Linked DNA regions of Homo sapiens. The protein of the gene in region 2 interacts with the protein of the main gene of each other region in a pairwise test. Each region holds a gene or a part of one and is shown on either strand. Other genes may lie near its edges. The genes, in order: SLC10A1, TOMM6, C1orf159 and SLC18A2.

Region 1 (7,955 bases), on a different chromosome or scaffold from region 2:
GAGTTGCTGATTTCACATAAAATGGATATTTTACCTTCTTTTGAAAAGTGGGAAGCTCTGGCTCCCACACAATACTTGCTGCTGAGACACGGGTGTCTGCCCATGCCTTTGAGGCTGTCTGGCCATTTTGTTTGTGGAAATGCTGACCTGGAAGATATTTCAGTAAAAGCACAGGTTCCGGAGCCACCCAGACCTGGAGCCAATGTATTGACCTCTCTAAGATTCAGTTTCCTTACCTCTAAATGCTACTTGTTACATGCTGTCCCCCAGGGTGCTGTAGGAGGATCACATATACTTATCCAGGTAAGGTGTTTAGCACTGTGCCTGGCTGTTTCTTATAATCGTTGTCATTATTATAATGCATGTAACAAGTTGTCCCAAATTGGAATGGGATTTGAAGTCTGGCAGCACATGAAGGTAGATGACCAGATTCCCATTCCGACAGTGGGATCTGAGACATGGTTTAATGTGCATGGGAGGGTTGTTTGTTGGGAAGGAGTTTTATGGCAGAAGGTGGCTGTCCCAGCAGAGCTTATCTCTTGTGGGGGTCTAGGTAAAAATGACAGTCATCAGGGGTCTGGACAAGGAGGTTGAGCAGGAGAGCATGAGGGGTCATGTTCTTGAGTCACCAGAGGCTCTGCCTGGGTGGGGCCTAGAGCCACAGCAATGTAGGCATTGTGGCAGAGGCCTCAATAGTGGCCACTGGCGATGGGGCTGGGACATCTGGCCACTCACACTTAAAAGCACAGTTGCCTTCCACGTCCCCTGCTCTGCTTCTTCCACAGAAACACAAAGCCCTCAGAGTACCCCTTCGCAGGCCCCTGACTTCTGCATCCCTCATACACCAAAATTCAGATATACTCTAGGATTCTTGGGACACACAGGCTGCCATGAGCCTTGTCCAGAAGCCAGATCCAAGACCAAGGGCTTGCTTTGTAGCAGAGAGGATGTGGATTAGACAGAGGAAAGCATTTTCTCACAGTGAGGTAGTTGAACATTGAAATACCTTTCCGTGGGTGATGGCACAAGCCAAATGCCCTCTTTGTGCCTCTCTTCCCATTGACTACTAAAGTGAGGGCTGAATCATATGGAAAAAGAGCCCAGAGCTTCTCAGATGGCAGATCCTGTTAAACCCCAACTCTCATTCACTCTCACTTTTTTATTTCCTTTTTTTTTTTTTTTTTGAGAGAGAGACAGGGTCTCACTCTGTTGCCCAGGCTGGAGTGCAGTGGTGTGATCATGACTCACTGTAGCCTTGAACTCGTAGGCTCAAAGATCCTCTCATCTCAGCCTCCCAAGTAGCTGGGACTACAGGCATGTGCCACTATGCCTGGCTAATTAAATATATATGTATATATTTGTAGACACAGGGTTTTGCTATGTTGCCCAGGTTGGTCTTAAACTCCTGGTCTCAAGTGATCTTCCTGCCTTGGCCTCCCAAAGTGCTGGGATTATAGGTGTGAGCCACCGTGCCCAGCCATTCTCACTTTTTTCATTTAAAAAATCTGTCCCAGTGTCATTTTGCATCACTAGGAGGGGCTTCTTGACTGGGTTAGTTTTCCTAGGAAAGTTTGGCTAGGAGTAGGGTGCTGACAGACACAAGCAGATGGACTTTCTGGGTTCTGCTGCTATACCTGGCATTGAATAGCGTCTCCACGGAGGACTAAACCAGGGGGGACTGGCTTGAGACTGAGGTTTCACTGAAAGCAAGAGCTTCTGCTAGTGAGTTTTCTTTAGCTTCAGCACAGGCTGCTGGAGCTGGAGCAGGTCTGAAGTAGCTCCTCTGGCAGATGTTCAAGACTAGAGTCTCCCCAGTTTGGAAGGATGAGCATCAACCAGCCCCTGTGTGCTGCGTCTCCAGGAGCGAGCCCTTGCTGATTTCTGCTTATAATGCTTTGGGCAGGGGGTTAGGGGGTGCTGCTGTCTTCCCCTTATCAGGGTGGCTGAGATGGGGCTGGCCTATCTGGAGTGGGTGCTGGGAAACTCTAGGATCTCCCTGGTTGTGCCTTTGCATGGAAATGTCATTGCATCTGATGGGGAATGAGGGACTTTAAAGAGAAAACATCTTAGATGACCAGGTAATTGGGAGGACCTTTTGGAAATTCTTGCCCGCTTTGCAGGAATTTGAGGTGCTCATTTGGTTCCAAGTCACCTTGATCTCCCTGATGATGTTTGGAACGAATCACACTACCTTTTAAATCTCTGGGCTCAAAGCAGGCAACTTGTCCACTGTTGTAGGTGGATGCAGTTCTCCAGAGGTTCCTTTGGCTTTAATCAGTGCTCCTTTAAGACAATCCTTGAGACACCTCTGGAAGCAAGGAGATCACCACGAGCTTCCTGGACCAGTATGGTCCCTTTGGCTTGGTGCCTAAACCAGACGTACCCCAACTCCTGCCCCCATCCCAGCATAAGCTCTTGGCAATAAATGCCAGACTTCCCCTGCCCTAGCCTCCACCCAGCCTGCATTCACTCCTTTTCCTGGCTTTAGCCCAGCTCTTCCCCTCAATTGTGACATATCTAATGTAGCTCCTGTCCCAGGCTGTTCCCTCCTCACCCCCAGGCCTACCTGAGGTTCATGTCCCCCTTCATGGCCAGACTGAAGACATTGGACAGGTTCCCTCCAGGTGAGCAGCCACAGACCAAGATGGCCAGTGCCTCAATGTTCTTCAGCCGGAAGACCTTGCCCAGCACAAAGGCCGTGAGGGGCATGATGCCATACTGTGCCACCAGGGCGATGGCCAGCCCTTTAGGCTTCCATAAGTGAGCCTTGATCTTGCTGAACTCCATGGTGCAGCCCAGCGAGAGCATGATGAAGAACAACATGAACACCAGGATGACGCTCAGTGCCAGGTCTGTGGGGCGCTTGCCAAAGTTGGGTGGCAGGGTGAAGTTGAATGGGGCAGACGCGTTGTGGGCCTCCATCCTCCTGTGAGGCAGTGGAAGACCACTCCTTGTTCTCCGGCTGACTCCGTTTCTTGTGCAGTTCTTGCTGGATGCCTTCTTTAATCACCTCTCAGGACAGAGAGTTTCTGGACAAAAGCTCTGGGCAAATAGAAGGGTTATGCAACTATCTGAGCTATTTCTCTGGCTGTCGCCCCAAAGAGGAACAGCCCAGAACCTTATCTGCCTGCCCTAGCTCTCCCAAGCTCCCTGACCTCTGCTGGATTCCTGGGTGCTACTTGTACTCCTCCCTTGTCACTTTGCTGCTTCTGGGCTTATTTCTCCCCTTTGCCCTCCACTGAGTGTGCCTCATGGGCATTCATTCAGTTACTGGGGACCTGCCCAGGGCCCACCTGAATCTAGGTCCAGCCCATCTCCTTCCCTGCAGCTCCTTTTCCCAGCTCCGCTCTTGATTCCTTAGTTTCTTGGTTGGGGGAAGGTGCCCTCCCCATGTCCAGTGGGTTATCATTTGTCCCCAGAACCCATGAGAGTGAAAGGAGCTGGGTGTTGCCTTTGGTTCCTAGATACAGGTAGCATAGTCCAAGGGGGTGTGGGACAGGCAATGTCACTGGCCTCCAGGAGGGGATGTGTCCATGACCCTTTTCCTGGGAGCTGAGAGGATGCCAGTATCCTCCCTGCCTGTTCTGGGGAAATGTTTGTTTTATCCCCAAACTGGGACTGTATGAGTCCCAGGGAGGAATACTGGTGGTGGCTGCTCCACACTACCTGGAATGCTTACCATCAGAGGGAATAACCAGCTGGGATGGTGGGTGGGCTCTCAGGAAGCTTGGAGGCTCTTTCCCCGAAAAGCAACCTGAGAGAACCCTGGCTGTGGAGATTGCTTTGTGCCCGAGGAGGCCCATTGCTTGCAAAACTTGCTGAGAAGGAAGCAGGAATGCAGTCTTTTCTTCCTGACTTCCTGATTGCTTTACTTTTGCACTGGGCCTGTGTGTTTCAGGCTGGGAGCCAGGCTTGGGGCGTGGAGCAGAAGCAGAGAGAGGTGGGCATGCCAGGGGCGGGGCCACCTAGTGTGTGAGGTTATCCTAGGCCTTGCTCTTTCCATCTATCCCCACTGCAGAGGTGGGACAAGGGAGGAGGGGTCTCCTTCAGAAACACAATTGCTTCTTGGCTTGGTTGGAACCTAGGAGGCCTGGGTGGGGTCTGAAACAGGTGATTAGGCTTTGTATGTAGGACTCCAGAGGGCAGAATAGGGACCAGGGTGTGAACCACTGTTGGGTGGAGGTGGGGACAGATTTTGGCTTGGTGCAAGGAACCACCTGAAAATGAGAGCTCTCCAAGAATGGCCTTGAGGCCTCTGGAATCCTGCTTGGATAAGGGTTGGATGGCAGGATCCATACATATTGCATCATATCCATGAAAAGGCTGCTCCCTGGGCTTGCGCGGTGGGCAGCCTGCGGGGCCGTATACTGTGGCCCTGGGTGACATGAACTTGAAGCCTCTTTTCCTTTGAGAGTCTCTGCTAATGATTTCCTGGTGCTTGAGTTGGGCTGGTATCAAAGGGAGGGCAGGCAGAGGACTGGGCACTGGATGTGATGCCTGGACTGAGCGTTCCCACAGGGTAGGGTTGAGTCTCAGAGGAGGCTGCTTCCTCTCCCTGGGGCTAATCAGAAGGGAACAGAGTTGCTAGGGGAGAATTATTGATCACTAACTGAGTACCAGGCACCATGGGAGGCAAAAAAAATAAAAATAAATAAATAAAAAAAACTATATAATTCATGTTCCTGTTCTCAGGGACCTGATGGTCTGTACAAGACCACAGATGGCCAGATGGTACACAATGCAATATGGAAGCACGTGAGGGTGGAGGCCATGCAGGGCTGCCAGGTACACCTGTTCAGGTTGGGCACTACACAATGCTAGGGACGCCACTCTACAGATGTCTTGTGCAACCGTACATGAGGCCTTGAAGTCAAAGGGAGACGTTAGGTTTTTACACATTTGCCTGATGCCAAAGGGTGAGGAGGAATTGACCAATATCTGTTAAAGATCAGGGTCTGGGCATGTGTCTATTGTGCACATCCAAAGAGAAGAAGAGTTCCTATGAACACATTTGTAACCTGGATTCTAAACCACGTAGTCTCTATCAACTCTTCCTCCTCACCTCTTCTCAGGAACCCAAAATCCTTCCACCTCCTACTGTGAGTTTTTCCCTTTGAGAAAACAGTTTCTTGCCCTGGCTGCCCCTCCTCCCACTCCTTCCCATTCCCTCTGTTCCTAGCAATGTGACTTTGCAGAGAATGGAAAAATCTCTTCCAGGAACCTGACACCCTCCATTCTTTTCCCCATATCCCCTCAGAATCTACTCTAATTTAATACAATTTTGGAAACAGGAAGATCTTTTTGTGTTATGTTAATGATACCTGAGAGTTGTTGAGCACATGCTGTGTGATGGATGCTGTGATTTAAATTACATTTCTTTTTAACTTTTATTTTAGATTTAGGGGTACATGTACAGGTTTGTTGTTACAGACAAACTTGTGTTATGGGGGTTTGGTGCACGGACCACTTTGTCACCCAGGTACTAAACATAGTACCTGATAGTTCTGATAGTTATTTTTCCTGATTCTCTCCCTTCTTCCACCCTCCTCCCTCAAGTAGGCCCCAGTGTCTGTTGTTCCCTTCTTCGTGCCCATTAGTTCTCATTATTTAACTCCCACTTATCAGTGGGAACATGCAGTATTTGGTTTTCTGTTCCTGCATTAGTTTGCTAAGAATATTGGCCTCCAGCTCCATCTGTGTTCCTGCAGAGAACATGATCTCATTCTTTTTTACGGCTGTATAGATTCCATGATGTATATGTACCACATTTTCTTTATCCAGCCTACTGTTGATGGGCATTTAGGTTGATTCTATGTCTTTGCTATTGTGAATAGTGCTGCAATGAACACACGTGTGCATGTGTCTTTATGGTAGAATGACTTATATTCCTTTGGGTATATACCCAGTAATGAGATTGCTGAGTTGAATGGTAGTTCTGTTTTTAGTTCTTTGAAAAATTGCCACACTATTTTCCACAATGGTTTAACTAATTTACCCTCCCACCAGCAGTGTATAAGTGTTCCCTTTACCTTGAATGTAAATGGGCTAAATGCCCCAAATAAAAGGCACAGAGTGGCAAGCTGGATAAAGAAGCAAGGCCGAACAGCATGCTGTCTTCAAGAGACCCATTTAACATGCAATGACACCCATAGGCTTAAAATAAAGGGATGGAGAAAAATCTACCAAGCAAATGGAAATCAGAAAAAAGCAGGGGTTGCAATCCTAATTTTAGACGAAGCAGACTATAAGCCAACAAAGATGAAAAAAGACAAAGAAGGGCATTACATCATGGTGAAGGGTTCAAATCAACAAAAAGGCCTAACTGTCCTAAATATAGATGCACCAACCGCAGGAGTACCCAGATTCATAAAGCAAGTTCTTTTTAAAAAATAAATAATTGAAATTTATTTTTTATAATTCTGGAGGCTGGAAAGTCTAAGATCAAGGTGCTGGCAGATTCAGTATCTGATGAGGGCTGCTCTCTGCAGATAATGCCTTGTTGCTGCATCCTCCAGAGGGGGTGAATGCATAAAGCAAGTTCTGAGAGACCCATGAAGAGACTTAGACTCCCACACAATAACAGAGGGAGACTTCAACACCCCACTGACAGTATTAGACAGATCATCAAGGCAAGACGAATCATCAAAGCAAAGATACTCAGGACCTGAACTCAACACTTGACTGAATGGACCTAGTAGACATCTATAGAACTCTCCACCCCAAAACAACAGAATATACATTCTTCTCATTGCCACATGGCACATTCACTAAAATCAACCAAAGAATTGGACATAAAGCAATTCATAGCCAATGCAAAAAACAAAAATAAAATTATACCAATCACACCCTTGGACAACAAAGCAATAAAAATAGAATTGAGTACAAAGAAAATTGCTCAAAACCATACATTTACATGGAAATTAAACAGCCTCCTCGTGAATGACTTTTGGGCAAATAAATTAAGGGAGAAATCAATAAGTTATTTGAAACTAATGAGAACAAAGATACAGCATACCAGAATCTCTGGGATACAGCTAAGGCAGTGTTAAGAGGGAAATGTATAGCACTAAATGCCCACGTTTTTATTTAGTCTTCACAATAGCCTTATGAGATAAGATGCTATTGCTATCCTTATTTTATAGGTTAGGAAAAGGCTTAGAGTGGTTAAATAATCTGCCCAATTTGCATGGCTAGTGAGTGGTACAATTGGTATTCATGCCCAGCCTGGTTCCGGGCCCCAGCTGCTCTTCTGACCTGCTCCTTCTTTTGCCTCATCCTGTCTCCCGAGTTAGCCTGCTTTTTGAGACCTGAAAGCTTTGACTGGAAAAGATCCTGTGATTGCATATTTTTTCCAAACTGGCCTAGACTTGTTCTTTCACAGGCTGGATGTAGCAAGCAACACAACAAACACAACATCCAAACAATCATGGGGGGGTAGTGGTGGCTGTGTAAATTTTACTTAAGGGACATTTTAATTTCATCTCTGGCAAAAGTCAGCTATTTTCCCAGATTCTGAAGTGGCATAAAAAGCCTTCAGTCAGCCATTGCTCTTGACAGTAGAATTCTACTTGTAGAAAATTATCCTATAGAGATAATTGCTTGAGGATCTACGTAAAGAGATTTTCACTGCAGCATTGCTTTGTAATAGTGAACTATTGGAAATAACCTAAATATCTATTAGTAGGTGATTGGTTATGGCCCATTTAAAAGAATGTAGCCATTAAAAAATATGGTAGTGACTTATGGTATAAATGTGGCTGTAGAGGCTGGACATGGTGGCTCATGCCTGTAATCCCAGCACTTTGGGAGGCTGAGGCAGGAGGATTGCTTGAGTCCAGGAGTTCCAGACCAGCCTGGGCAACATAATAAGACCTAGTCTCTACACAGAATAAAAAATTAGCGAGGTGTGGTGGCAGGCACCTATATCCCCAGCTACTTAAAAGGCTGAGGCAAGA
Region 2 (7,202 bases):
CCAAACCCTGGACAGTAGCACTACCATGAATTTTAGGGTCACAAAACATTTCCTTCTGAAGGAAGCAGCTGCCTCAGCAGTGTCACTTTAGTGACCACTGCCCAGGCTTACTTCACTTTGCCTCCCCCTACACATCACTGCCCTCTTTCTGCCACCAAACCTCACTATTCCAGCAATGATGCCTCCCTGGTGTCTGGAAAACCCATCTGGTGCACTAAAATGCTATGCAACACCAAATGGCTTCTTCCCCTAATATTGCTCAACAATGTAAATTCTTCAAGAATAAACTTCATGCTAGGTTAACATCAATGTATGGTTACAGCTTCCTTTTTTTTTTTTCCCTTTTAAAATGAAGCAAACCACCTCCATTAAAATCCATGTTTTGGGGCTTGTTTTTGTCTCTCAAGTGTGAAATATAAATCATGTTTTTATGATTTTTGTAAATCTTTTTACACCTTGTTTTTGTAAGCAAAAGTTTCTTATTAAAAGAATAAAATGACTGCCTTTGTGTGCGGTATTTATTTCAAATGTTTTTTAAAACAGCACTGTTATTTCTCAGGACAAGAGCAAAAATCACCCCCTGCAGAAGCTTGGGAACTATGTACAGAACTTTACAGAATAGAGGCAATACTTTAGCTTAAGCCTGTCTGCTGACCAGAGAATGGAATTCTGCGTGGACTCAAGGAACAAAAGGAAACTAGGCAGGGAAGGGGAAGAAAAGTGCCCATCTGAATCAAACTTCAGCTGCCATCAGGGCACATCTTGTGGTGGTCACAGATTGTAGGCTGTTTTTTGGAAGATTCGGGTTCAGCACAGGATTCCATTTGTCTGCAATCAGATGATAAGACGACAGGTGGCATTAGAACTGTAAAAGTATGGGAGGGAAACTGGTAAGAGATACTTAAATCCCTTTCAACATCTGAAAACACATTTAACTAGGAATAGTTAAGGGTTTTACATCACATTCTTTTGTACATTTCATGAATACTTGACAGAAAACATTGCTTCACCCAGTCTCTAGGTCTCCTAAGACACGCATGGGTGTAGTTCAGTGCTTACCTACTTGGCTACACCCCTGGCTGAGGTGCCATGAGGTCAATGTCACTCAAGTTCCTGGCCAGCCAAACTCCCGCAGCAAAGAGTCCCAAATTTAGTATCAAGTTCCTGGAAAAACAATGTGTTTTATTAACCCTGTGGTCACTGAGTCAGTTGTACAGTTAACGAAATGTACTGGGGGGAAAGGCTTCCATCACCACCTTCCCGAGGCGTTGATACGTGGTTGTGACGGCAGGTTGCTCAAGACCCACGTGGGAATTTGGAGTTCATTTTTGTGCCTAGTAAGTGTAAGGTCAGGCTGGGCGCGGTGGTTCACGCCTGTAATCCCAGCACTTTGGAAGGCCAAGGCAGGCGGATCACGAAGTCAGGAGCTCGAGACCAGCCTGGCCAACATGGTGAAACCCCGTCTCTACTAAAAATACAAAAATTAGCTGGGCGTGGTGGTGCGCGCCTGTAATCCCAGCTACTGGGGAGGCTGAGGCAGGAAAATCGCTTGAACCCGGGAGGCGGAGGCTGCAGTGAGCTGAGGTCCGCCACTACACTCCAGCCTGGGCGACAGAGCGAGGCTGTCTCAAAAAGAAATAAATGTGGCCGGGCGCGGTGGCTCACGCCTGTAATCCCAGCACTTTGGGAGGCAGAGTCGGGTGGATCGAGAAGTCAGGAGTTTGAGACCAGCCTGCCCAAGATGGTGAAACCCCGTCTCTACTAAAAATACAAAAATTAGCTGGGCGTGGTGGCGCGCGCTTGTAATCCCAGCTACTGGGGAGGCTGAGGCAGGAGAATCGCTTGAACCCGGGAGGCAGAAGGGGCAGTGAGCCGAGATTGCGCCTCTGCACTCCAGCCTGGGCGACAGAGTGAGACTCCGTCTCAAAAAAAAAAAAAAAAAAAAAAAAAAAGGCCGGGCGTGGTGGCTCACGCCTGTAATCCCAGCACTTTGGGAGGCCGAGGCGGGCGGATCACGAGGTCAGGAGATCGAGACCATCCTGGATAACACGGTGAAACCCCGTCTCTACTAAAAATACAAAAAATTAGCAGGGCGTGGTGGCGGGCGGCCGTAGTCCCAGCTACTCGGGAGGCTGAGGCAGGAGAATGGCGTGAACCCGGGAGGCGGAGCTTGCAGTGAGCCGAGATCGCGCCACTGCACTCCAGCCTGGGCAACAGAGTGAGACTCCGTCTCAAAAAAAAAAAAAAAACAAAAAAGAAATGTAAGATCAAACGCAAAGCCCAGCTAAAGCACTAGTCCAGGGCCGAAAAAGCCTGTTTACGTGCTAGCACTTCTTCCCTTGATCAGGGTGACATTACAGATACAGCCACATGACAGAAAGATCGCTTTTGCCACACGGGAACTCTCCTGGCCAGGGATCTCAGTGAGGCACAGCCAGAGCTACGAAGACGCCACAATGCTGGTAATGTTAAAAAACAAAAACAAAAAACCCTGAGGCGCCAGCCTCGCAAGAAAGGGGAAATACGGATTTAAGGGCCAGAAAAGGACCAAGTTCCTCGGGCTCGGTTACCTCCGGAAGTCATTCCTATCAGTGGCAAAGCGGTAGACGCCCCGAAGCCAATCTCCCACGTTGTCCGGTATTTCGGGAGTTTCATTAGCCGAGCCAGCAGCGCTCACCGGGACAGTGCTGGAAGCCATAGTGGAAAGCTTCGCATGGGCCTCGGTGGAGGAACCGTATCGGCGTCGCCGGTGAATGACGCACCTCCGGTCTGGCACTTCCGGCTGCTACCGGCCGGCAGTGGGGGCGCTGTTCGCTTAGTCCGACATCCGGAAGAGGGACGGCCCTCTGCTGCGCCTCCACGAACTCTAGGAGGGGAGGAGCGCGGCCCGGTTCTACGGTCCCCTGCTCCCGGTCCCACCTCCGGCTCTCCAGCCGGTAACTGTCACGCGTGCTGTGATCATTTAATTGGCTTGGGAGGAGGATGGTGGGGACGGGGCTGTCCCAGCCTGTGGAGGTGGGGGTAGGGGCTATCTCAGCAGGGGAAGCGTAGCTTTGGGGAATGGGTTTTGCCAAGAAAGTCTCCGCCAAAAGTCTTAGAACGCGCAGTACTGAAGGGGGCGCACTCCAAACTTGTCACCTCGCCGCCTCTTGCGGGCGTGCGCCTGACTGCGTCTCAGTCTAGGATTGTTAGGGGGAGGCTAGCCTTGTTCTCCCGCTTTACAGACCCCTTTCCTCCCACTCACATCCCCTCTCTGAGCTGCGCCACTAGCACATGGTGCAGTGCGTCTTAGAGGCGTTGCTGTCCTCTGCTTGGAGGCTTCCGGGGGTCTTCCAGGACTGGGGAAGGCGCTCGCCTAAGAAAAATCCTTCAGGTTCCGAGTCAGAGGAGGAGGAGCAGGTGGAGAAAGGGGTGTCCTTGGGATCACGAATAGTCTCCAGGCGGCATTGCTCCTGCCCTTTGGGTGCCTCCGCTTTGTCCCCAGGTCGGTTCTCCTGCTGGGGACTGGATCCAGGCAGCCCCCTCTGAGTTTGCAGGCTGGAACCGCCGGCAGCAGCGAGGAGTGTTCGGGAGAGGGTTGCAGAGTTCACCGAGGTTTGGTCCCTTCCTTCAGTTCGGTCGAGTCCAGTCTCCCCTGTTCCGGGCCGGGTCGGAAACGCTGGTCTCAGAGCCGCGGAGCTGGACCTACACCGCAGCTAGTGGGGGTGAGGCCCAGCCTCCCGCCCCGCCCAGCCCCTGGGCCGTGCGCGCCGCCGCCGCCGCCGAGAGTCCTCGCCAGGGTCCCCCGCCTCCACCAGAGGGCGTCCGCCTCCCGCGCCTGGGAGGGAGTCTGGCGCCGCAACCCCGACCGCGGCGCGGGGTGGGTTCGGGCGGCCCTTGGAACGCTCCGGCCAGGGATGCGCGGTGAGAGCTGCGGGCCCCGAGGCTTGGGTCTGGGGGGTGCGGTGGGGGCGCTCCTGGAGGGACGGGACGGCGTGGGACCGGGGCGAGGGTCCCAGCCCGGGAGAACCCCCACAGCCCAGCCCAAGCTCCCTCCCGCTTTGCTCTGCATCCTCTCCCTTACCAAGGAATGCCTGCCCTTCCAGTGCCCCGGCCCAGCTCGAGCCTGCATCCGAGTAGCGGTTCTCGAAGCAGCTGGGGCAGCAGGGGCTTCCCCCAGGCAGGGCATAACGTCCCCCGCCCAGAGGCCCGGCGCAGTCCTGGCAACAGAAGTGGTTCTCATGCCAGCGCTGTCCCTCCGCCTCGGTGCAGCGCCAGGAGAAGATCAGCTGGGAGAGGGAGAGGGAGAGGGGAACGTTTCATTCATTCATTCCCTCATTCATTCATCCAGTAACCACGCCTTTTACCCAGTTAACGCTAAAGCACGTCTGCACACATTCCCATTTAATTCACTCAGCCACTTTTGGACGCAGGGAGGACTGATTGGCTTAGCCAGGATCCCAGCTAGCAAGTGGGACAATCCCCAGTGCGACCTGGGGGTCTGGACTCCCAACCCAGGGCTCCAGGCTTCCTTTTATGCTGACATCAAGGGAATTTCTAGCATGATGAGGCACAGCACTGGGCACTCGGCATCTACTGAGATGAGCATGTGTCCAAGACTCCCTGCTCTAGAGAAATTCGATGAGTCCAGGAACATTTGAGGGACTCTGCAGTGGGGGAGGCCAGAGAGAAGGGCACTGGGTCCTACATGCCCAGAGCTCAAGTCAGAACACAGGGAACTTGGTAGTCCCAGGCTGGTTCCTACTTCTCCCCACTCCCTGATACTGGGAGAAACTGTGGCCCAGGAGAGTGTCCCTTTGTATCCTGCCACTCTGGACTCTGGGCAGACCCCCAGTTCCTCCCCTCCAGGCTGTACCTGGTCACAAGCCGGGCAGCGCGGGCGCAGCAACTCTGCATGATGACGGCCGCAGTAGAGTTGTCCATCATGGTAGAAGTAGATGAGGTTTATCAGGGCCTGGCCACAGGCCTGGCAGGCAAAGCAAGGCTGGTGCCAGCAGCGCTGTTCCCCTGCCCGGGCTGCAAACACTCCGTACTCCCCTGGCTTCAGCAGCTCCCTACACTGTCAGAGGGGAGGTGCTGAGGTGGTCGGAGTAAGCACTACCATCCTAACTTCCCTCCTTGCTCTTGCAATCCGATCCCAACCTGTTCTCGCCATACCCTAGCAAGCCCACATCCACTGCAACCTATACCAAGAGCTTGCAAACTTGGTTTCTGTTTTTCCTGTTTCCCAACCAGAATCCCAGAAGCTAGCCCAGCCCCTTCTGCAGAAATGAGAGGGCAAAGAATAGAGGAAGGGGAATTTGGGGGGAGGGGTGCTACATACCTTCTCACAGGTGTGTCCTTCAAGCTTGGGAAGTACCAGGCGGGCTACCCCCTGTCCCAGGGCTTCCTGCTTCCGCCTGGCACAGAAGAGCTGCAGCTCGGCCCGCTCCTCCTCCCCAAGGGCCAGGCAGTAGCGCTCCTGCAGAAACAGTCCTCTACAATTACTGGGAGAGCTCCAGCAGAAAACATTGAGCATTGGTTGGAGGAAAAAGGGCTTGGCTGCTGGGTCAGAGAAAGGTTGTAGAACCTCAGGGAGATGCCAGAGATAATGGCATAGAAGAGGAAATGGAAAAGGAAAGGAGCTCAAGAAAGCCACCTCAGTCTCACCCTGCCCCACTAGGAATGTCATCAATCAGGTCCTGACAGGCCCACAGCACTTAGCCCTGTCACCATTAGGTCCTTGTTCCCAATGAGCTAAGAGCTCAGTATCACTTCCCATTCTTGCATTTCCTCAAATTATTTCATATACTCCTGTCTTGCCTCCCCAATTGAATTGTAAGCCTTTAGGCTGGACACATGTAGACCCTCAATAAATACGTAACAACCATACTCTCTACATTTGTACATTCCATTATCCGTTTCAAAAGTCGTTCATGTCCATTTTCTCATTTGCTCTTGAACTAAGCATTGTGGTGGGCAGAGCAGATGTTATTGCACCTGCTATTGTTATTGCCAATGTGAAAACTCAGGCAGGGGGAGAATGACGCCCCAACCAGTGCCATAGCTGGGCATTAAATCCACATCCCCTAACTTCTGGACTGAGGTTCTTCCCACAGTAAGAAAAGAGATGAGGGAGGGAAAGGCAAGAGAGGGAAGATGGGGAGAGGAGACCCACATCAATGTCCTGCGGAGGGAGTTGCTGCAGGAGGGTCTGAAGTCCAGTCCAGTTGGGGGCTTGGTTGGTGTCCAGGCAAAGGGAACCCAAGCTCAGAACTGCAGGACCCTGAGGAGACATGGAAGAAGGGGAGGAGTGAAACTAGGTTTTTCTTTCCTTTCTCCTTCTTTCCCCCTCATCATTGCCACCTCTTCTCCAATCTAGAGCAGCTTCTAAGCATGCCCTCCATTTGGGAGGGTCCTCCTTGCAGATCCTCACTGAGTGCAAGGATAGCTGACTGATGCCTGCATGTGTGGTCTTCCTTGAGGGAGGCTGGGGAGGCCCCACACCCCAAAACAGCTTCCCTTCTTATGCTTTCCCTTCTTAACCCCCTTCACGCCTTGGGGCCAAAGCCCCTAGAGTCTGGTTTGACAATACAGACCCCCTAGGAGAGATAATGAATACTCATGTGAATGAGTTTAAAGTCAAAACCCCATGTTCTAAGCAGGTGCAGAGACAGGAATTCCTGAAAAGAGAAAAAGGCAACAAGAGATTAGGCACGAAGTCAAACTACCTCCGGGTTGGTGGAAAAGGGTGGCCACTCCACAGGATAGAGGACATGTTGGTCTCAGAGGAAGGGCACGACTCTACTACCTGAGCATGGGTATCCTCAGGGTCCTCCCCCGGCAGGTGGCCTGAGTCACTGTCTGAGTTGGCTGGTGGACCTGGATCCTGGGGCTTGGGGCTGTCTTCTTGGTGGGGCCAGCCAGAGTTCTGCACTGACATTTGTGGCAAAGCCTACCCCAAAACAATAAGAACACCTCCATGTATTAGGCCGTTACAATGTGCTAGGAAGTGTTAAGTGCTTTATAGATATTATTTCCCTCAGTCCTCCCAACACCCAAACGACTTAGGTAGCATTATCCCCATCTTACAGATGGCCCAACTGAGGATCAGACCTTGAGTAGCATGCCCAAGGTCAAACAGCTAGTAAGTGGCAGAGCCAGGACTTGAGGTCAGGTCTTTTGGTCCAGAATTTCTGAAGTTCAAATTCTGGGGTCTCCCA
Region 3 (7,022 bases), on a different chromosome or scaffold from region 2:
ACTAAAAAGTCAGCAGAGGAGATAAAATTGAAGACAACTTGATCCCTCTACCTACAAAAAAGGAAGCAAAGGAGGAGCAGGGAAAAGCAGGTGGAAAAACAGAAATCGAACATAAAGATGGTAGACTCCAACCCAAACACTCTAACACCTACATTAAATACAAATGGTTAAATTAAATACTTCAATTAAAAACTATCGATTAATGTCACTATTAGGGAAATGCAAATCAAAATCAAAATGAAATACTCCACACCCATTAGAATGGCTATTACCAAAAAAACAGAAATAAATGTTGGCAAACGCATGTGGAGAGAATGGAACCCTTGTGCATGCTGCTGAGAATATAAAATGGTGTGAAAAACAGTATGTCAGTTTCTCAAAAAACTAAACACACACACAAAATTAAACACAGAATTACTCTATGACCCCGCAACTTTACTTGTGGTTCTACACCCTGAAGAACTGAAAACCAGGACTCCAAGAGACATTTGTACAACCATATCTTAGCAGCATTGTTCACCACAACCACCATGTCTTAGTGAAAGGTGACAACATGCTAGCAGCCCTCACTCACTCTCAGCACCTCCTGGGCCTCAGCATCCACGCTGGCCACACTTGAGGAGCCCTCCAGCCCACCGCTGCACTGTGGGAGCCCCTCTCTGGGCTGGCCGAGGCCGGAGCCGGCTCCCTCTGCTTGCAGGGAGGTGTGGAGGGAGAGCTGCAGGCGGGAACCGGGGCTGCATGCAGCGTGAGTTCTGGGTGGGTGCAGGCTCGGCGGGCCCCGCACTCAGAGCACCTGCCGGCACCCCCGGCCCTGGGCAGTGAGGGGTTTAGCACCTGGGCCAGCAGCTGTGGAGGGTCCCCCAGCACTGCCAGCCCCCCTGCACCAGGTTCGAATTCTTGCCGGGCCTCAGCTGCCTCCACGCGGGGCAGGGCTCGGCAGCCTGCCATGCCCGAGGCCCCCCGCACCCCCGCCCGTGGGCTCCCACACAGCCCGAGCCTCCCCAACGGGCACCACCCCCTGCTCCGCGGCACCCGATCCCATCAACCACCCAAGGGCTGAGGAGTGTAGCGCACGGCACTGGACTGGTGGGCAGCTCTGCCTGCGGCCAGGCGCTGGGTCCATTAGGCAAAGCCAGCTGGGCTCCTGAGTCGGGTGAGGACTTGGAGAACTTTTATGTCTAGCTGGAGGATTGTAAATGCACCAATCAGCACTCCGTGTCTAGCTCAGGGTTTGTGGATGCACCAATCAGCACTCTCTGTATCTAGCTAATCCGGTGGGGACTTGGAGAACCTTTATGTCTAGCTACAGGATTGTAAATACACCAATCAGCACTCTGTGTCTAGCTCAAGGTTTGTAAACGCACCAATCAGCACCTTGTGTCTAGCTCAAGGTTTGTAAATGCACCAATCGCTGCTCTGTGTCTAGTTAATCTAGTGGGGACTTGGAGAACTTTTACGTCTAGCTAGAGGACTGTAAATATCATTCTGTGTCTAGCTCAGGGATCGTAAACGCACTAATCAGCACCCTGTCAAAACAGACCAATCAGCTCTCTATAAAATGGACCAATCAGCTGTCTGTAAAATGGGCCAATCAACAGGATGTGGGTGGGGTCAGATAAGGGAATAAAAGCAGGCTGCCGGAGCCAGCAGCAGCAACCCACTCGGGTCCCCTTCCACACTATGGAAGCTTTGTTCTTTCGCTCTTTGCAATAAATCTTGCTGCTGCTCACTCTTTGGGTCTGCACTGCCTTTATGAGCTGTAACACTCACTGCAAAGGTCTGCAGCTTCACTCCTGAAGCCAGTGAGACCACGAACCCACCAGAAGGAAGAAACTCCAAACACATCTGAACATCAGAAGGAACAAACTCCGGACACACCATCTTTAAGAACTGTAACACTCACTGCGAGGGTCTGCGGCTTCATTCTTGAAGTCAGTGAGACCAAGAATCCACCAATTCTAGACACATTAGCAGCACCATTCACCACAGCCACCATGTCTCGGCAGCACCATTCACCACAGCCCCATGTCTCAGCACTGTTCACCACAGCCACCATGTCTCAGCAGCACCGTCCACCACAGCCACCATGTCTCAGCACCGTTCACCACAGCCACCATGTCTCAGCAGCACCGTTCACCACAGCCACCATGTCTCAGCAGCACCGTTCACCACAGCCACCATGTCTCAGCAGCACCGTCCACCACAGCCACCATGTCTCGGCACCGTTCACCACAGCCACCATGTCTCAGCAGCACCGTCCACCACAGCCACCATGTCTTGGCACTGTTCACCACAGCCACCATGTCTCGGCACCGTTCACCACAGCCACCATGTCTCAGCAGCACCGTCCACCACAGCCACCATGTCTCGACACCGTTCACCACAGCCACCATGTCTCAGCAGCACCGTCCACCACAGCCACCATGTCTCGGCAGCACCGTCCACCACAGCCACCATGTCTCGGCACCATTCACCACAGCCACCATGTCTCGGCACCGTCCACCACAGCCACCATGTCTCGGCACCGTTCACCACAGCCACCATGTCTCAGCAGCACCGTCCACCACAGCCACCATGTCTCGGCAGCACCGTTCACCACAGCCACCATGTCTCAGCACCATCCACCACGGCCACCATGTCTCAGCAGCACCGTCCACCACAGCCACCATGTCTCGGCAGCACCGTTCACCACAGCCACCATGTCTCGGCACCGTTCACCACAGCCACCATGTCTGCAGCAGCATTGTTCACCACAGCCACCATGTCTCGGCACCATCCACCACGGCCACCATGTCTCAGCAGCACCGTCCACCACAGCCACCATGTCTCGGCAGCACCGTCCACCACAGCCACCATGTCTCGGCAGCACCGTTCACCACAGCCACCATGTCTCAGCACCATCCACCACGGCCACCATGTCTCAGCAGCACCGTCCACCACAGCCACCATGTCTCGGCAGCACCGTTCACCACAGCCACCATGTCTCGGCACCGTTCACCACAGCCACCATGTCTGCAGCAGCATTGTTCACCACAGCCAAAAGGTGGGAGCAAGTGTCCACCCACAGATGAATGGATAAACAAAAGGTGGTCTATACAGACCGTGGAATATTCTACAGTCCTGAAAAGAAATTTTGGACGCATGCTACAACAGGAATGAACCTTGAAAACACTATGCTAAGTGAAAGCAGCTCATCACAACAGGACAAATACTGTATGATTCTACTCATGAGGTTCCCAGGGTTGTCGAATTCATAGAGACAGAAAAGACAACGGTGGTTGCCAGGGGCTGGGGGGCAGGGAGGAATGGGGAGTTAGTGTTTAATGGGAACAGTTTCCTTTCCTTTTTCCTTTCCTCTTTTCTCCTTTCTTTCCTTTCCTCCTTTTTAAAATTTCTTTCTTTCTTTTAGAGATGGGTTTGCTCTGTTGCCCAGGCTGGAGTGCAGTGGTGCAATCATAGCTCACCGCCATCTTGAACTCCTGGGCTCAAGCAACTCTCCCGCCTCAGCCTCCCAAGTAGCTAGGACTACATGCCTGCCACCATATCTGGCTAATTTTATTTTTATTTTTTGGTAAAAAGGGTGTCTTGCTGTGTTTCGCAGGCTGGTCTTGAACTCCTGGGCTCAAGCGCTCCTCTCTCCTGTCTTAATGCATGTGTACTAGATAAACATGCATGTAACGCAGGACCCATGTTCACTGAGAGGTGAGATTTCACATTTACATGTAAGACAATTAGGCCCTATATGGCCAAAGGTGAGGCGCGGCCCGGGAGTCACTCCAGTCACATCCTCCATAGACCAGCAGAACCAGTCCGTGGCCAGTGGTGTCTTATCAGGAGGAAGTTATGGAAAGTGACGCTGTAGTTATGGCCGTGAAATGGGGGGTCAGTTAGTGCCTGGCAGCGAGCCATCACTGTTTCCATACCGCTTGTCTCAGGCCAGTGCCTGCTTAACTGCTAGAGGAAAAGAAAACCCAAGCCTTATTCTTTAACTGTAAGGGTGTGTGACTTAACCCCGGCCTGGCACGGCCTTAGGTCCTGATTATAACTCGGCGTCTTATTGCCGCAGAGTCTGTCAGTCTCGTGATCTCCACTTTAACACTAATGTTGGTCAGTTGTGTCTAAACTGAAAAAGGGTGGCAGTATAACCAGGTGTGTCCAACCTCCCATCCTTTTATGGCCGGAAACTCAATTTTTAAGGTTTCTCTGGGGTCCCCTTGACCAAGAGGGAGCTCGTTCAGTCGGCGGGGGACTTAGGATTTTATTCTTAGTTTACAACATCAGTAATAAAATTAATAGGCAAATCAAAGAATGGGAGATAGTCACAGTACACGTACCAGACAAAAGCCCTGAATATGGAATATATAAAGGACTTTCACAATCTGGTCATCAAAAAAATGGGCAAAAGACATCCTCGGACACTCAGAAAACGTGTGCGAATGGCAACAGATGAGTGGACAGTGCTCAACACGGGTGAGCGTCAGGGAAATGCAAACTAAAGCCTCCACGACCAAACGGCACTCAGCCTCTCGGCTGTGGGGACACACAGAACCGCTGGGACTTCCACACCTGGGATGCAGCCTTCCCCCCGGGCACGTTCCCAAGAGAAACAACACACGCCCGCCAAACACGTGCACAAAAATAGGCCCAACTCTTCAGACAGCGGAAACCCACCCGGGCGCCCTCAGAGACGACGAGCACGCAACAGCGCATCCCACACCCACTCCTTGTGCAGCACCTCAGAGGAAGCTCAACAACAGTTCTCTGCGTGAGCCGTGGCAGACGCAAAACCGCCCGCACGTGTGACTCCTAACACTCAGAGTGTCGGTAAAATCACAGCAGCGCTCCTGTCTGGCGCGGCAGGCGGGCGCTGGAGCAGCCTGCGAGGCAATCTCCATGGATCACAGGCAGATTCTACATCACGACAGGAGTCTGGTGAATCCTTTGTCAAAACAATTGAACTGGACACAAGCTCTGTGTGTTTCACTGCATGTAAATTATGCCTTAGTAACTAAACACATGCATTTTCTATTTTGAAAATCTCATTGGAGCCAAAAAGCTAAATAATGGGATGAAAATTTCTACAAGGCAATGAAAAATTTAGTGAGAATTTAAATTGTGCTATACACTCTTTGACCACTCTTATTTTCCCTTAGAAGAACTGGTTTCAGGGCAGGTGTGGAGGCTCAGGCCTGCAATCCCATCATTTTGGGAGGCCAAGGTGGGAGGATCGCTTGAGCCCAGGAGTTCAAAACCAGCCCGGACAACAGAGTGAGATCTCATCTCTACCAAAAAAAAAAAAAAAAAAAAATAGCTGGGCTTGGTGACGTATACTTGTGGTCCCAGCTATTTGGGAGGCTGAAGTGAAAGAATCTCTTGAGCCTGGGAGGTCAAGGCTACAGTGAGCCATGATCGCACCACTGCACTCTACCTGGGCGACAGAGCCAGACCCCGTCTCAACAACAACAACAAAGAACTGGTTTCAAGAAAAAAATGATGCCTCAGGTCACTGTGATTTTAAATAAGTAACATCTTGCAAAACAACCCTGTAAAAGCAACCACCGGCTGGGGCAGTGGGTAGACCACACCCACGCTCACCGTAACTCCAGCCGCCCAGGCAGCAGTAACTGAAAAGGGGAGGCGGGAGGGTCCACTGGCGGGTTTCTCACGCTGCTGAACCTCGGTAAACACAGCCCCGAGGGCTGGCTGGAGCTTCCACTGCATCCGTGTAGCTAATGCTGGTCATCTTCGTAGCAAGCAAAGGAAGCCAACGTGAAACGTAGCTTTAAGGGCCCAATAAGAACTGTCTGGGGCCTCTCTACCTAAAGATCCCTCTCGTGCTTTGATAGAAAACAAATACCGCAAACCCCTTGATGGGGTGTAAAGGAGACATCCCCCTTTGTTGACATGCATGGTAGTCGCTGCCCACCTACCCGTGGGCTCAGCACACCGGAGTCGGGCGGTTGCCGTAGGTGGCTCAGCAGACGTGAGCAGGGCAGGATCGGGCCCATCCCCCCACCGGGAATGTCAGGCCACCATCAGGTGATGGTCAGGTGGCTGTTAACTGTCTAAAAGAACTGGTTGCACCCAGCGCCAGGGAAAGACAGGCTCCCAATAGCTAGAAAACACATGAAATCCGGTGATGGGCAGCTTCCCGATACGATCTCAGGAACTGGGCGAGTTGGCTCAAGCGTGTGCACTGAGAGGCAAAATGGCGGCGTGTAACCGTTCTATGACCTTCTAGGGACGTTTGACAGGTAACGGAAGAACGCCTCAGGTGAGCATGGGCACTACTCCAGTGAACACACGGCGCACGGTCCCTCCCTCCAGTGAACACAACGCACACGCTCCCTCCCTCCAGTGAACACACAGCGCATGCTCCCTCCTTCCAGTGAACACACGGCACATGCTACCTCCCTCCAGTGAACACACGGCACATGCTCCCTCCCTCCAGTGAACACAACGCGCACGCTCCCTCCCTCCAGTGAACACACAGCGCATGCTCCCTCCCCCCAGTGAATACACGGGGCATGCTCCCTCCCTCCAGTGAACACACCGGGCATGCTCCCTCCCTCCAGGGAACACATGGCGCATGCTCCCGCCCAAGTACTAGCAAGATGCTGCATGGGTGGACAGCCCACCCTGAAGAAGGATCAGGGGAGAAGGGGTGCAAGACCCCAGAAGCCTGCCAGGCTATAAAACCCCAAGTCAAAAGGTGAAACCGCACACCTGATCTCTCACATCGCCCGTCTGGCCCTCCTCCAAGGGTACTTCCTTTCCTTCCTGCTCTAAAGCTTCTTCAACAACTTTCACTCCTGCTCTAAAACTTGCCTTAGTCGGTGGGGTGCGGTGGCTCACGCCTGTGATCCCAGCACTTTGGGAGGCTGAGGTGGGTGGATCATCTGAGGTTGGGAGTTCGAGACCAGCCTGACCAAAATGCAGAAACCCCTTCTCTACTAAAATACAAAAAATTAGCCGGTTGTGGTGGCAGGCACCTGTAGTCCCAGCTACTCGGGAGGCTG
Region 4 (7,022 bases), on a different chromosome or scaffold from region 2:
ATGATAACGTCTACCTCATAGGATTGTTGTGAGGATTAAATGAAAGAATCCCAACAGAGTGACTGGCCCTGTGGCTCAAAAAGTGTGTTCCTATTTCCAATATCACCCCACTCTTTCCTGCTTATCTAACTCTCTGGCTTCCCCCGTCAGTCCAGCAATACCTGAATTTTCTCCCTTTTTCCTCCTCTGTGATGTGAGAGTTTCCTTTTGCTATACAGACCCCAGAACTCCTGAATGGGCTCCCCTTGCCAAGCCGGCAAACATCAGTGGCTGTTGTGATGTCCGTTTGTGAACGGCAGCCTGATGGCTTATCTGTGGCCTTGGGGAAATGAATGAGGTCAGAGGATGAGCAGAGAATGTGCTTGCCCAGCCAACTACCACTGTGTTCCGCAGAAGGACTGGCAGAAGGCAGGCCTCAGTACCCCTCCTCTTTCCCCATTTAAACGAATACTTCAGTTCATGTTTTAAAAAAATGCTGAAGGAAGTGGAAGAGACGATCCTGAAAGGCCAAACAGTAAGAATTATAGGTTTCCAGGAAGCCACTTTCACTGCAAGATGTTACAATCCTTAATAAGCACCTAGCAAGATAAATCATTAAAAACTTGAGAAGGTGTGCATCTCGCTGCCCATCAATGATGCCCATAATTGAAGGCATCACATTGGATGCCATTTGACTGGCCTAATGGTGACATTTGAGAGTGGTGGCCAGCAGTTGCTGCCTACTCATTGTGCAAGCAGAGCAGGAAGCCAGCGGTGGCGGCCGACAGCACCTAATGATAAGGGGGCATGCAGGCAGGACAGCAGTGTGTGAGGGAGGAGGAAGAATCAATGACCATGCAGTTGAGAAACCCCAGAGCAGACAAGTGCTGGCGTTCAGGATGAGCAGTTGCCAAATGCTGGGGGATGTGAGGGCCAGAAGGCATACGACCCTTAGCAAATCATTCTTCCATTAGACAGCATCCTGATAACAAGGTGTTTGGACTTAAGCTGTTTTATATTGTAAGATATAATGCTGTTTTCATGGATCACAAGTGACAGAATCATGAACTAGTTTATAAGCATGTGAGTTTGTCTTCCATTTGGTTTACTGGATTTCTGTTTTTTATAATCAGCATTATCAGTATAGGTGGAGGAAAAAAACTGTTACTCAAGTCCCTCTGCACATACAGGAAATATCAACATTACCATTTGAGGAAAAGTGTCTTATAAGACAGTTACACGGTAGCGCTTCACTCTCAAAATTCCCAGTTGAGAAGAGCTGTGTTGCGGATTTTTTTTTCCAGGTTGAAGAATTATTTTTAAAGACAAGTCACGCTTCTTAATTTTACTCTTGAAGTTTCTAATTGTTGCCAAGACAAGAAATTAGGTGGTTTGAGGATTGCAGCTTTCTTTTCCTGGATGGCTCTGATAGTTGTTCCATAAAGCCCTTCCAGCAATAGCTCTGTTTTCTGGATGCCATGCGTGGGGCAAGGATGGGGTGGCCCGAGGCTGCTGAGATAGACCACATTCTGCATATTCTAAGTTGTTTATAGAATTTGTCCCTTTGCAGGTATTTAAATAGTGGGTGCAAAACCATCATTGCTTTTCTAGTTATGTTAAAGAGAATAAAACTTTCCTACTCAGAAGGCCCAGGACCTATCATCAAAATCTCAAAGACTGGCACTCTTATCTTTTAATGCTTTTATGGGTTCACTACCCCAGCTTTGTATTACTTATACTTTTCATTTGGTCCACCATGTTGGTTTGTTTGTACCACTTAGGAGATCCTAACTCATGAAAGGGGCATTTGGAGGGGCTGGGGCTCACCTCTCAGTAAGAGGGCTTTGCTCTGAATTCAAATGCCAATCCTCTCCTATTGATTTTCTCTTTGGTTGAGAGTCAAACACACCTTCCTCACCACAGCAGTGTGTGGAGAGCAGATTTAATTTACCTGCCTGCACTGCGGCCGCCCTACTTGTTCCCCGGGCACCTGACTGACCTGCTTGATGCTGTTCATGCCTTTCTTCATGGCACTTTTGAAACATTACATGCCACCTGGCTTATTTGTGTATAACTTTTTTTTAAAAAGTACAATTATTGCACAATAGATCTTTCAAGAGAGGTTTGGAAGCCAGTGAGCTAGGTTTTAAAGGCTACAGAACATTTAAAGGAGGAAAACTTCACCTGAAACAGGCTGCTAATAAATATGTTTTTGGTGAATTGACAAATGCTGGTCAGTTAAGTATGCATGATGCCAAATAGTCTGACTGAACTGCTTTTCCTGCAGTGCAGTTTTTTGTTGCGTTCCTATCATGTGCCCAGTCCTAGGTTCTGGGGTCCTTAAGATGACATATTCCTACATTCAGGTCTAATGTGGATGAGCCAAGAGATGGAAGGCAATTAGGAATAAGGTAGTGATGACCGTTCTTTATAAGGTGACCTGCCTGCCTGGGAGCCGTGCAAGGATCGAGGCCCCATGCCCTGCATTCCAGTTGGGTGTCCCAACTGGTATCTCACTGTGCCTCCTCAGCAGACCTCTGTGGTGGCCAGGCTGGCTTACTTAGTGTCCTGCTTGGTAAATAACTCATGTTTTACTCATTGCCACCTCCCTTGCTGTCCAAACCTTTTCCATCTTTCAAAGTTTACCTCAACTCCCGCCTCTATAGGATAGCGTTCCCTGGGCACTGAACCAGCAGTGAGCACTCCACCTGGGACCCTGGAGTCCCTGTCCTTGCCTGTGCAGGGAGGTAACTAAGATGCTGGGATAGGACCTTAAAGGCACTGAGATGCAACACCTAGTAGGTGTCCCGTCAGCTGTTGTCAGCCAGATGACAGTGCTGTAGTCTTAGATAATGCCATGTAACTAGGGCAGTGTTTCTCAAAGTTGACACTGTTGTCACATGAGGACAGGGCCCTCAAATTTCATTTTTTAACCTGCTCCATCTCTCCACCCCTACATTTCCTTGCGAATCATTAATCTGGGGGAGATGAGACATTTATTGTTAGGGGGGTTAAACCTTTGTGTTACATGGGGAGAACGGTCCTGGTGTACAAAGTCTAGTGCCGCCATTATTTTAAAAATTGAGCTCTTTATTGAATACAAGTATCAATTCACTTGGCAAGCAGCATAAAAAACAGTTAAGTTAGAAGCTGACAGGTTGAGCTGGCAGCCTAACTTAGAGGGTCAAGGAAGTCCTTATCTTCACATGTTACACAGATCACTGGATAATGTCTTGGGAAATGATAAATGGGTTAAGCACTGAGTCGAGTCTTATCTGGGGACAAGAGCTGGGAGTAATAGCTAACAGACAAGATGGGTTACAATAGGCCAACATCAGATACATTTTAATCTATTTAGATTTGCAAACTGCAAAAAAAATATTGGGGAGTAGTTCACATGGAGAAAAACTCAAGACATACCTGATAATTCATTTTAGTTGCACATGACGCCCCCTTGCCATCCTCTGTGCTCATCTAACTACCACGGAGTGCTGCAGGCGGCTCCTGTCTGCCCCATCCTAGCTGTACACCCCTCGGTCAAATTCTTTAACTGCTCCGTGCCTGTTTTCTCACCTCCCACAGAGGGTTATTGTGATGTATTGCCACTAAAATGCTTAGCATGGTCTTGGCATGATAAATGCCAGCTATCAAATATAAGCAAATACTATTGGACAATCTGGTTTGAAAGCAGAGCAGCACGTTTTTGTCACAGTTTTTAAATTTTCAGTAACAATAAAGGAGGGCATGAGAGTTTCATGCTCATCAGAAGAGGATTTTTAAAAAATCATATATTTTAGCTAGAGGACAGCCAGGATTGGGGACAGGCGGTCAGGAAATCACATGTGTGAAAAAATAATAGCTCTAGCATGTTTTGCCTACTAAGAAATCTAAGGGGCCATGACAATATGGTCTTAAAAGATTGGGGGCCAAGCATGGTCACTTGCACCTGTAATCCTACCACTTTGGGAGGTTGAGGCAGGAAGATCACTTGAGCCCAGGAGTTTGAGCAACCTGGGCAATGTAGTGAGATGTCATCTCTACAAAAAAAAAAAAATTAAAAATTAGCCAGTCTTGATGGCATATGCATGTAGTCACAGCTACTCGGGAGTCTGAGGTGGGAAGATGGCTTGAGCCTGGGAAGCAGCAGTGAGCTGAGATCGCACCACTGCACTATGGCATGAGTGACATTCTGTCTCAAAACAACAACAAAAGATTGTAAGGGCAGCCTGTGAAGATATCAGAACTGGCTGGGTGCAGTGGCTCGTGTCTATAGTCACAGCACTTTGGGAGGCTGAGGAGGGGGGATCACTTGAAGTCAGGAGTTTGAGACCAGCCTGGCCAACATGGTGAAACCCCATCTCTACTAGAAATACAAAAAAAGTAGCTGCGAGTGGTGGTGCACACCTGTAATATCAGCTACTTGGGAGGCTGAGGTGGGAGGGTTGCTTGAACCCAGGAGGTAGAGGTTGCAGTGAGTCAAGATCACAACACCGCACTCCAACCTGGGTGACGAAGCAAGACTTCATCTCAAAAAAAAAAAAAAAAAAAAGAAAGAAAGAAAGAAAGAAAAAGATACCAGAACCAGATTCATGAATGCAAACAATGGAAACGGGTTGTAGTCCAGACTTAGGTACATTTCTCACATGTGAGGGCTTCTCTCATTAAGGAGAGAGCACATCCTTTCAAGGTGTGTTGCTACAATGACGTCTGTAAACAGAAGTTGGACTGGGTGACCTCCAGGATCCCCATACCCCAATTCCAAGATTCTAAGTATAACAAACCTAACCTGCCTGTCCCTTGCTTCATAGAGTATAAGTTCCCAGAGTGGACTTATGGCCCCTGACAGGTATAATGAAAATACTGCAGAGACCACTTCTGTCTCCAATTGCCTGGAATTTTTAGAGTGTAGAACTACAGGTCTTTTAGGTCAGGCGTCTGGCGATTGCTCCAAATGACTGGTTAATAGCAAGTAATACTACATAGTTTTCAAACTAATAATCCTTAAAAACAGTAGGTTAAAACCATCTTATCTTTATGAAACAAGAAGTTAATATACTTGCACTTTGCTCTCTTTTAGGCTATTCTCATGGATCACAACTGCCCTATTAAAACAAAAATGTACACTCAGAATAATATCCAGTCATATCCGATAGGTGAAGATGAAGAATCTGAAAGTGACTGAGATGAGATCCTCAAAAATCATCAAAGTGTTTAATTGTATAAAACAGTGTTTCCAGTGACACAACTCATCCAGAACTGTCTTAGTCATACCATCCATCCCTGGTGAAAGAGTAAAACCAAAGGTTATTATTTCCTTTCCATGGTTATGGTCGATTGCCAACAGCCTTATAAAGAAAAAGAAGCTTTTCTAGGGGTTTGTATAAATAGTGTTGAAACTTTATTTTATGTATTTAATTTTATTAAATATCATACAATATATTTTGATGAAATAGGTATTGTGTAAATCTATAAATATTTGAATCCAAACCAAATATAATTTTTTAACTTACATTAACAAACATTTGGGCAAAAATCATATTGGTAATGAGTGTTTAAAATTAAAGCACACATTATCTCTGAGACTCTTCCAACAAAGAGAAACTAGAATGAAGTCTGAAAAACAGAATCAAGTAAGACAGCATGTTATATAGTGACACTGAATGTTATTTAACTTGTAGTTACTATCAATATATTTATGCGTTAAACAGCTAGTTCTCTCAAGTGTAGAGGACAAGAACTTGTGTCAGTTATCTTTTGAATCCATAAATCTTAGCTGGCATTAGTTTTCTATGTAATCACCTACCTAGAGAGAGTTGTAAATTATATGTTAACATGTTATCTGGTTGGCAGCAAACACTAAAGCCAATAAAGGAAAAACAGTAAATGTTCCGAAAGCAGAGAAAAGCAACCAAACATATTGTTATGAACTAAAAGCTTTCCCTTTAAGATGCATACTTGTCTTACTGGATGAAGAAAATTGAGGGTACATGTACCTTATACTGTCAAGGTTGTTTAAACATGATAAGGTTAATCGCCATCTACTTCAAGTTTTAGAAAAGGAAACAAGAAGCTGAAAACAGCTGCTCTGACTTTAATATCTGACTATATCTTTGATCTGTTTGCAGGTCATCCAAGTGTTTTCTAGGAATATATTTATTTTAGGTTGTCTGAAACTACTATTTTTTAGACTCCTGAAAGTTGTTCACATCAATGTGAAGACAAATTTTAAATGAAAATGAAGAATGAAATTATGTCTTGAATCATATATTAAGAAGTAAAAATAATAGTGATCAGGCAGAAAAGAAAAATGGAACATCTAAAAATGTATGTGCTAACTATATCATCCAGTGTGCAGTGTTGTGTATTTTTCTAAGCATGACAACATTGATGTGCCTTTTCAGTGTAACAGCAAATACTGTTAGTGAACATTGTCAATTTATGTCATTTTGTTAAGAGATATGACTGGAGTGTGCAGTGTGGAATGTCTCTAATACTACTTGTGAATCCTGCAGTTCTATAATCATAAACAAAAATTACTTAGTTTCGTTAAGCTAAGATTGTGTTTGTGTTAACTTCGACATCAAGGAGCAAAGAACTTTAGAACAGACTCCTCAATCTTGTGACTTTCTTATTCTCTAGGAAAGTAACACTTCGTTTCATGAAGCTTTTCTGTGGGGCTTCGATTATTTCAAGTCTGGTTTCTAAGTGCAGTGTGTTTGAAGCAAACGAACTTCCAACTCACTTATTTGGCATTGGGCAACTTGGCCAAGTCTGCCACTTTGGAAGATGGCTCTGGAGGAAACTCTCATATGGCTAAAAAGGCAGGCTAGTTTCTTACTTCTACAGGGGTAGAGCCTTAAAAAAGAACGTGCTACAAATTGGTTCTCTTTGAGGGTTTCTGGTTCTCCCTGCCCCCAATACCATATACTTTATTGCAATTTTATTTTTGCCTTTACGGCTCTGTGTCTTTCTGCAAGAAGGCCTGGCAAAGGTATGCCTGCTGTTGGTCCCTCGGGATAAGATAAAATATAAATAAAACCTTC

What was found.
Region 1: the proteins of TOMM6 (region 2) and SLC10A1 interact in binary tests that used the Homo sapiens proteins (3 or more experiments, as listed by UniProt).
Region 3: the proteins of TOMM6 (region 2) and C1orf159 interact in binary tests that used the Homo sapiens proteins (3 or more experiments, as listed by UniProt).
Region 4: the proteins of TOMM6 (region 2) and SLC18A2 interact in binary tests that used the Homo sapiens proteins (3 or more experiments, as listed by UniProt).

The regions. Positions count from the first base shown.
Region 1 is NC_000014.9:69,794,234-69,802,188, forward strand, and holds the start of SLC10A1 (hepatic sodium/bile acid cotransporter), read right to left. Parts: upstream 3,009-7,955; 5' UTR 2,923-3,008; coding exon 2,567-2,922; intron 1-2,566. UniProt on the Homo sapiens protein: As a major transporter of conjugated bile salts from plasma into the hepatocyte, it plays a key role in the enterohepatic circulation of bile salts necessary for the solubilization and absorption of dietary fat and fat-soluble vitamins.
Region 2 is NC_000006.12:41,783,194-41,790,395, reverse strand, and holds TOMM6 (mitochondrial import receptor subunit TOM6 homolog), read right to left. Parts: upstream 2,703-7,202; 5' UTR 2,699-2,702; coding exon 2,571-2,698; intron 1,165-2,570; coding exon 1,068-1,164; 3' UTR 1,060-1,067; intron 866-1,059; exon of another isoform or gene 829-865; 3' UTR 501-828; downstream 1-500. Other genes in the region: PRICKLE4 (prickle-like protein 4), read right to left, coding at 3,267-3,634, 4,064-4,268, 4,856-5,059, 5,324-5,461, 6,158-6,265, 6,791-6,922.
Region 3 is NC_000001.11:1,106,076-1,113,097, forward strand, and holds part of C1orf159 (uncharacterized protein C1orf159 isoform 2 precursor), read right to left. Parts: intron 1-7,022.
Region 4 is NC_000010.11:117,272,106-117,279,127, forward strand, and holds part of SLC18A2 (synaptic vesicular amine transporter), read left to right. Parts: intron 1-5,056; coding exon 5,057-5,161; 3' UTR 5,162-7,022. UniProt on the Homo sapiens protein: Electrogenic antiporter that exchanges one cationic monoamine with two intravesicular protons across the membrane of secretory and synaptic vesicles.